2 separate regions of the Homo sapiens genome follow, and region 1 is linked to region 2. Evidence: fine-mapped expression QTL. Tissue or cell type: iPS cells. Region 2 holds a variant in brackets; the other region holds the start of a gene. All regions are shown on one strand. Distances are from middle to middle.

Region 1 (4,269 bases), 150 kb before region 2:
AGGCTTTACTTCATGCCACATACATTTCCCTATTCCCCAAGCCTCCTTTCTCTCCAACCCCTCCCCTTATTAGACACAGCTTTTTAAAGCAGTCACGGTCTTACCCATGGCTTCAATTGTTTTCTATATGCTGTTATGACAATAGAATTTAAATGTTGTTCTTATATAACAGTTTTATTTTACGTGACACCTCATTCGCTACAACCATAAATTCAAAGTTTCCCTAAGAAAGTAATCACTAAAAAACTATTATATTCTTAGTATGTAAATGTTAGGAAATTTCCTTAATGGTTTGAGTTACTGTGTGTGTGTTACTTTTGAAAACATGAGTTGGGATGTCACAGAATGGACTTAGCCTACAGAGGTTTACATCCAATTTTCAACCAGACGGTTCCATTTCAATGTGACATTTAAAGAGTTCAAAACTGTCTCATTCCCCACACCTCTTTCTCGTCCTACATTCTCTGTCTAGGGGAGAATCACTGCTATTTACACAGTCCATCAAACTAGGGCCTTAGCAGCCTGTTTTTCCTTCCCCTCTTCTTCCACGTCTAATCACCAAGCACTTCCTGTTCTATCTCCCAAATGATCACAAAACTTTTCCTTCCACTTCAGTCACTGCTGCTGCCTTTTTAGCCTTACTGTTCTCCAGATGAACATAGAGTATCTTAATCAGCCCCACTGCTTTCATAAAGCCCTCTCCACTGCGCAGAGTGACGTCACTGCAAGCACATCGGATAGAGACTCCTCACCCCTGTGTGGTTCAGTGACTCTCGTTTCCAGAATAAAATTCAAACTCTACCCCAGCATCTAATTTTGGGTCAGATAGATCTGCATTTTCATTCCAGGTTGATTCACTGTCCAGCAGTGTAGCCTCAGATAATTGAACCCTCTAAGCCTTTGTTTGCTCATCTGCCTGAACTCACTGAGGGTTGGGACTGTTTCACACATGCAGTATTGGCACTTAGACTTAATGTTGAATGAAGGGGAGGCATTTTAAAATTCACATCAAAAAACTGTTATTCTTTAAAAAAAATACTAATCTACAAGGTCACTTCCCCTCCAAGCATGACGTCTACCTTTACTTTCTGATAATCATGATCGGCTTGTGGGGATCAAGATTACTCAGGATTAAATTCTGGCCCCATCTTGAGCCGTCATGGAAACTTGGGGAAGCTACTTAACTTCTCCATCTAGATTGATTCTGCAAAATCCGTAAAATGGAATGGTTTCTGGGGGTTAAATTAGTATACCACTGTTGGAATACTGTCAGGCTTGCCAGATATTTACTGTTCATCTTCATCAAATGAGGACAGTGGTATCCCACTATATGGTTTTCAATTTTGTGTAAGAAAAACGTGCTTTATGCATTGTTAGTAAAAGAAATATCTGAATATCCCTGCCATGGAAGAAAGAAACAGAGGGAGAAAAGAGAGTTGGTAGGTCCTAGCATTTCAGAACTGGGAAGGATGAGTTCAGTCCCTATTTTATAGACAATGAAGGGAAAGTGTGATGTGTCCTAGGGTTTCATTCAAGTCGCAGTCATCACGCTTTATCGAGAGTGGGACCAGGGCTCTAGGAGTTGCTGTGGTCAAGTTGAAGACAAAAAGTAACACTTGTAAGACAGGAGAGAAGCATTTACTTACAAAGCAGTCCGAAATTTGTGTATAACTACATTTGGTGAGCAAACGAAAGCTGCCAGACTCAGAAAAACAGAGATGCTAATGGAACTGACTTTAGTAACCAGGGTTTTCTATTGAGTTCATTGCCCAGGGTGACTTCCAATAACAACCTCCAACCCCTGCACTTTTCTCAGGACTGGAAAGCTCAGGCAGCCCAGGATGAATAATGCAGTCACCACAGAGGGACAGGGTGGCCACAAGGTGGGCAGCAGCAGGGATGGGCATTGTGAGGCATTTGGTGGGTCTGTGGGGTCGGCCATTGTGAGCCACTAGCCTGACTTGGTTGTTTCCTGGCAACCAGGTGACATAGGAGGTTTTGTGGTTACTAGGCAACGGCCAGGGCCAGCAGCCTTCAGTCGGTAGCTGGCCGTAGAAGGAGGAGGAGCTCCGACTACATTCTGTCCTTGTGCCTCTTGGACTTTTTTGTGTGTTTAGGTGCCCAATGGGGAGCAAACTGACTTGCTGCCTGGGCCCCAGCGGGGGCCTCAACTGTGACTGCTGCAGGCCAGATGTGGGACCCTGCCATGAGTGTGAGATTCCTGAGACTGTGGCAGCCACAGCACCAGCATCCACCACTGCAAAGCCTGCCAAATTGGATTTGAAAGCTAAGAAGGCCCAACTCATGCAGTACCTCAGCCTCCCGAAGACGCCGAAGATGCTGAAGATGTCCAAAGGTAAAGAAGCCATGGGTGCCATTTGCTCTCTGGCATCTCTCTGGCCACCACCGCCCCCACCCCTTTGCAGTCCCTCACCCTCAGAGACATCCTCAGCTTCCAGCTCCCTCCTGCCCATAGCCGGCTTTCCCAGGGCTAGGCATGGGGGACAAAGGCTGGTTCTGCCTCTTGTCTTTGTTGTTGAGCCTTCTTTGTTGAGGACTTTTTGGTCTAGTCCCGGCCCTTTTCTCAGTAAAATTTCAAATACTCCAGTTTTGGAGTCCCCATCCCATTCTCTATCCTTACCCATCCAGCTGGTCTGGTACCTAAGTGAAGGAGCCAGTTAAGGGCCCAATTGTTTCTTTTCTCCCATTCCTTAAGGTAGCTAATAATTGGGATAATTTAGACTCAAATATGTGGAGACTTCTTAAATTCAAAATAGAGTTTGCCATGGAAGAGATTATATGGTATTCTTAATAGATGGTTTTAAGTCACATTGACAGAAGCTGCTTTACTTCTTCCAATTGTAATTTGAAGAAAGAAGGAAAAAAAATTGGGGGACATGCTTCAAATGACTGCAAAAGGTATGAAATGTTAGTGCCAGAGCTGTAAAGAAATTGCTTTTGTGTTGGTTTTACCCAAAGAGTTTAGTCATGGAGCTCTGATTACTTTAAAATTCCCAATTTGACATGAGTGTCTCTTCAGCCCTACTACAGTGTAGTCCCTATATTGTAGACAAGGAAGGGAAAGTGTGATGTGTCCTAGGGTTTCATTCAAGTCGCAGTCATCACGCTTTATCGAGAGTGGGACCAGGGCTCTAGGAGTTGCTGTGGTCAAGTTGAAGACAAAAACTAACACTTGTAAGACAGGAGAGAAGCATTTACTTACAAAGCAGTCCGAAATTTGTGTATAACTACATTTGGTGAGCAAACGAAAGCTGCCAGACTCAGAAAAACAGAGATGCTAATGGAACTGACTTTAGTAACCAGGGTTTTCTATTGATTTCATTGCCCAGGGTGACTTCCAATAACAACCCCCGCCCCCCTGCACTTTTCTCAGGACTGGAAAGCTCAGGCAGCCCAGGACGAATAGTGCAGTCACCACAGAGGGACAGGGTGGCCACAAGGTGGGCAGCAGCAGGGAGGTGTGAGCCATTGGGTGGGTCTGTGGGGTCGGCCATTGTGAGCCACTAGCCTGACTTGGTTGTTTCCTGGTAACCAGGTGACATAGGAGGCTTTGTGGGTACTAGCCATTGGGCAGGGCCAGCAGCCTTCAGTAGCTGGTAGTGGAAGGAGGAGCTCTGACTACACTCTCACGACTGTTTTTTGCCTCTTGGTTCTTGTTATGTCCCTTTCTTTTTGAAATAAGACGGAAGGTCCCCACCTTCATAGACATAGAGATCCCATCTTATTTGTTTTTTAAAATAAATTGAAAAGTGAGGCGGAGCCTTGTGAGGATGATGGGAGAGGGCTTCCAGAGAGGAATTTCTTCTTTGGAATTCCTGAAATGGGAACAAACTTGTTTTGGGAAAAGGACAGAAAGACACAAAGGTGGCTGCAGCAGAGTGAAATGAATATGATGGGCTAAGGCCTTGTACACGTAGTGAGCATTGACAAAGAATATGGACTTTAGTTGAGATGGGAAACCACTGGAGGATTACAGCCTGGGGATTACTGTTAATCCTCCAAGAAGAAGACTGACCAGCGGCTGTGTGAGAATGTCCTGTAATGCAGGCAAGGGTGGAAGCAGGGAGACCAGCTAGGAGGCTGGTGGCGAAGTGCAGGTGAGAGTCAACAGTGAACAGACAGACGATCATGACCTGAAATAGGCTGACTTGAGAATCTCTAGAGTCAAGTGATCCTAAAAGTAGGTAATAAAGTGATAAATAGAGAAGTCACAGAAAAAGAAATGCAAACGATCCTTAAACACATCTT
Region 2 (4,269 bases):
ACATGCTAGGTCATAAGAAAAGTTTTAACAAATTTAAGAAGATTGAAATCATATCAAATATGTATCTTTTCTGGCCAGAGAGGTATGAAACTAGAAATCAATAACAGAATTTCAGAAAATTCACAAACACATGGAAATTAAATAATATGTTTCTGAACAACCAATGGCTCAAAAAAAGGGGGAAACTTTGAGGCAAATGCAAATGGAAACACAGCATACCAAAATTTATAGGATATGACAAAAGCAGTTCCTTTTTTTTTTTTTTTTGAGATGGAGTTTCACTCTTGTTGCCCAGGCTGGAGTGCAATAGCACAATCTCGACTCACTGCAACCTCCACCTGCCAGGTTCAAGTGATTCTCCTGCCTCAGTCTCCCGAGTAGCTGGGATTACAGGCATATGCCACCATGCCCGGCTAATTTTGTATTTTTTTTTTTTTTTAGTAGAGATGGGGTTTCTCCATGTTGGTCAGGATGGTCTCGAACTCCCGACCTCAGGTGATCCACCCGCTTCAGCCTCCCAAAGTGCTGGGATTACAGGTATGAACCACCACACCCAGCCTTCTTTTTCTTTTTAGTTTTTGTTTGTTGGTTGGTTGGTTGGTTGATTGGAGACAGGGTCTCACTCCGCTAACCAGGCTGTGCAGTGGCATGGTTTCAGCTCACTGCAGCCTCAACTTCCCTAGCTCAAGTGATCCTCCCACCTCAGCCTCCCGAGTAGCTAGGACTACAGGTGTATGTCACCACACCTGGCTCATTTTTTTAAATTTTTTGTAGAGATGAGTTCTCACTATGTTGCTCAGGCTGGCCTTGAACTCCTGGGTTCAAACAATCCTCCCGCTTCAGCCTCCCAAGGTGCTGGGAGCCTTGGGCCCGGCCCACAATTTTAATAGATGATGTAATTGACTATCCTATTTCAAGTTCTGTGAGATTTCAAACAGTTACAAGTAATTTTGTTTCCTTGCAGTGCTTCTAAGATCATGGCAGTGTGTTACACTAGAAAGGGCGGGGCTCAAAATCCTAACCCTAACTTTATAGGTATGGACTTTCCACAACTTTTCTGCTACACCCTAGGTTCCCTCTTTTAAGTTCTTTTTAAAAGAGGCACAATAGAGGCAATAATCTGGTTATTGCAATCAGACTCTATTACAAGACTCTAGGAATCCTAAACTCCTCTTTCCCCTTAGATGACATTGCTTTCATTCAATCCTTTTATGATGTTTGGTATATGTATATGTAAAGTACTGTTATATGTGCAGTGGGGTCATGAAAAGTTGAGTCTTGGCCTTCAGGTTGCTCATAATACCTTCTGGGAAGCCTTCCAGCAAAAAAGAGTGTAACACTCCTCTGACCCATGGGAGGACCTCTTCACCCCCTTTTCTTCCCACCTTCACCTTAGCTGGTATGACCTGGTGTTCTCCAATTGCCTCTCTTCACATCTCTATGCCGTTGCTCATCTCTCCCTCATTCAATTTCAGCCTTCAGAAATCCTACCCACCCTTCAAGGCTCAGTTCCAAGCTGCCCCCTCCAAGAAATTTTCCTGGAACTTCCCAGGTCCATTATTCTCTCTCTTTGTCTCTGTTTTCATCTGTTCTGACATTATCACACTCCTTGTATTGTACTTATTTGTGTGCGCGTTTTAGTTTAGATCTCTGCCCTTTTTAACAATTAATTCCACTGTATAGCTTTAATTAACATTCTGCTTTTGAACCTTTCTTTCTCCCTCTCTGGAGGTAACTATCATCTTGAAGTTACCAGTTATCATCCCTATGGTCATTTTATACTTCATTTCCACATATGTTTGCACCCATGAACCTTCTATTTCTGTCTTTGTCTATCCATAAAACACATACACACATTGATAAAGTTTTTGGTGCTTTATTTATGTATTTATGGAGATAGAGTCTCACTCTGTTGCCCAGGTTGGAGTGCAGTGGCACTATCTTGGCTCACTCCAACCTCCGCCTCCCGGGTTCAAGCAATTCTCATGCCTCAGCCTCCCTAGTAGCTGGGACTACAGGTGCACGCCATGCCCAGCTAGTTTTTGTATTTTTAGTAGAGACAGAGTTTCACCACAGTGGCCAGGCTGGTCTTGAACTCCTGGCCTCAAGTGATCTGCCTGCCT[T/C]GGCCTCCCAAAATGCTGGGATTACAGGCATGAGCCACTGTGTTCACCCAGTTTTTGGTGCTTTAAAAATGCATATAAGTGCAAGCACATGACACTATACTGTTTTGTTTACTATGGCTTTATAGTGTCAGTCCTCTTCATCTTCAATATTATGTTGGCTATTATAGGTTTTTTGTCTGCATATAAAATTTAAAATCAGTTTCTTGATAGCCCAAAATAACTTGCTGGGGTTTTGATTGAGATTGCATTGAATCTATAGATCAAGCTTAGAAGAATTGGACAACTTGACAATATTGGGTCTTTCTATTTATTTAGTTCTTCTTTCTTCAGAGTTTTGTCCTTTTCCTCATACAGTTCTTGGTACATAATTTGTTAGATTTATACCTAAGTATTTCATTTTGGGGTGCTAATATAAATTGGTATTATGTGTTTAATTTTAAATTTTACTTGTTTTCTGGTATATAAGAAAGTGATTGACTTTTGTATATTAACCTTGTATTCTGTAACCTTGTTGTAATAGCTTATTATTTCCTCCAGCACCATCTGTTGAAGAGGTGTAAAAGGCTATCTTTCCTCCTTTTGCACCATTGTCAAAAATCAATTGGGCATATTTATGTGGGCCTATTTTCAGGTTGTCTGTTATGTTCCATTAATCTCTATACTATACCTCTGCCAGTACCACACTCCCTTGATTACTTAGCTATATAGTTAGGCCTTCATATCAGGTAGAGTGTTTCTTCCCACTTTGTTCTCTTTTAAGACTGGTTTTTTGTTTGGTTTGGTTTTAGCTATTCTAGGGTCTGTGTCTATAAATTTTTGAATGAGGTTATTTTTGTCTATATAAAATGTTGGAGGAAGTGCATTAAATCTATAGGTAATGTTGAATTTGGGAGAATTGACATCTTTTTTATGTTGAATTTTTTTTTTTTTTTTTTTTTTTTTGAGACACAGTTTCGCTCTTGTTGCCCGGGCTGGAGTGCAATGGCATGATCTCAGCTCACCGCAACCTCCGCCTCCCAGGTTCAAGCGATTCTCCTGCCTCGGCCTCCCAAGTAGCTGGGATTACAGGCATGTACCACCACGCCTGGCAAATTTTGTATTTTTAGTAGAGACGGGGGTTTCTCCATGTTGGTCAGGCTGGTCTCGAACTCCTGACCTCAGGTGATCCCCCCGCCTCAGCCTCCCAATGTGCTGGGATTACAGGCGTGAGCCACCGCGCCTGGCTAATGTTGAATTTTCTAGATATTATAATATACATACCATACTTTTCACAGTCTGTTTTATTTTAGTAAAGGATAGAAAACTTACCTCCATATAGATTCATCTACTCTCTTTCCTTTATGTTATAGGTGTAATCTGCATTAAATATATACACATTGCAACTCCCTAGACAATTTATAATTTTACATATACATATATATTTTATATATATACAAAAGTCATATATACCAATTTTTTTGAGACGAAGTCTTGCTCTGTTGTCCAGGTGTCACGCCTGTAATCCCAGCAATATGGCGAAACCCCATTTCTACTAAAAATACAAAAAATTATCCGAGTGTGGTGGCACACGTCTGTAATCCCAGCTACTCAGAGTCTGAGACATGAGAATCACTTGAACCCAGGAGGCGGAACCCACTTGAACCCAGGAGGTTGCAGTGAGCCAAGCATCTGTCTGTTGGCAAATTTCTGTAACTTTTCCGTAGCTTGAGCATATATTTATTTCACCTTCTTCCTGAATAATATTTTTACTGGATATAAAATTGTGGGTTGTCTGGGCCTGGTGGCTTATGCCTGTAATGTCAGCACTTTGGAAAGCTGAGGCAGGAGGATCGCTTGAGACCAGGAGTTTGAGACCAGCCTGGGCAACATAGTGAGACCCCATCTTTATTTAAAAAAATCTGAGTTAGTGGTTCCTTTTTTTCATCCATTTAAAATGTTATTCTAGCTGGGTGCGGTGGCTCATGCCTGTAATCCCAGCACTTTGGGAGGCCAAGGCGGGCAGATCATTGAGGACAGGAGTTTGAGACAGCCTGGCCAACATGGTGAAACCCTGTCTCTACTAGTGGTGTGCACCTGTAATCCCAGCTACTTGGGAGGCTGAGACAGGAGAATCACTTGAAACTGAGAGGTGGAGGTTGCAGTGAGC

Alleles and levels. Positions count from the first base shown, and alleles are read on the strand shown. Sizes are in standard deviations (SD) of each study's normalised expression.
For the expression in iPS cells of the gene that starts at base 2,037 in region 1, allele C in region 2 goes with a lower level than allele T (moderate effect, 0.68 SD a copy in HipSci).

The links. PIP is the estimated chance that this variant, and not a neighbour inherited with it, causes the effect. A credible set is the group of variants that fine-mapping cannot tell apart.
Region 1: it holds the start of C22orf42, and the variant in region 2 is the best candidate, but not a certain one, in a credible set for the expression of C22orf42 in iPS cells (HipSci, PIP 0.79).

What each region holds. Positions count from the first base shown.
Region 1 is chr22:32,157,071-32,161,339 of GRCh38, reverse strand. It overlaps C22orf42 (chromosome 22 open reading frame 42), which reads left to right and starts at 2,037. Exons shown (of 9, transcript NM_001010859.3): 1 at 2,037-2,356. The coding sequence starts at 2,125.
Region 2 is chr22:32,007,446-32,011,714 of GRCh38, reverse strand. All of the region lies in intron 4 of LINC02558 (long intergenic non-protein coding RNA 2558), which reads right to left. Among named protein-coding and RNA genes, the nearest start is that of SLC5A1, 34 kb to the left of the region's middle. The variant T/C (reference allele first, on the strand shown) is at 2,124.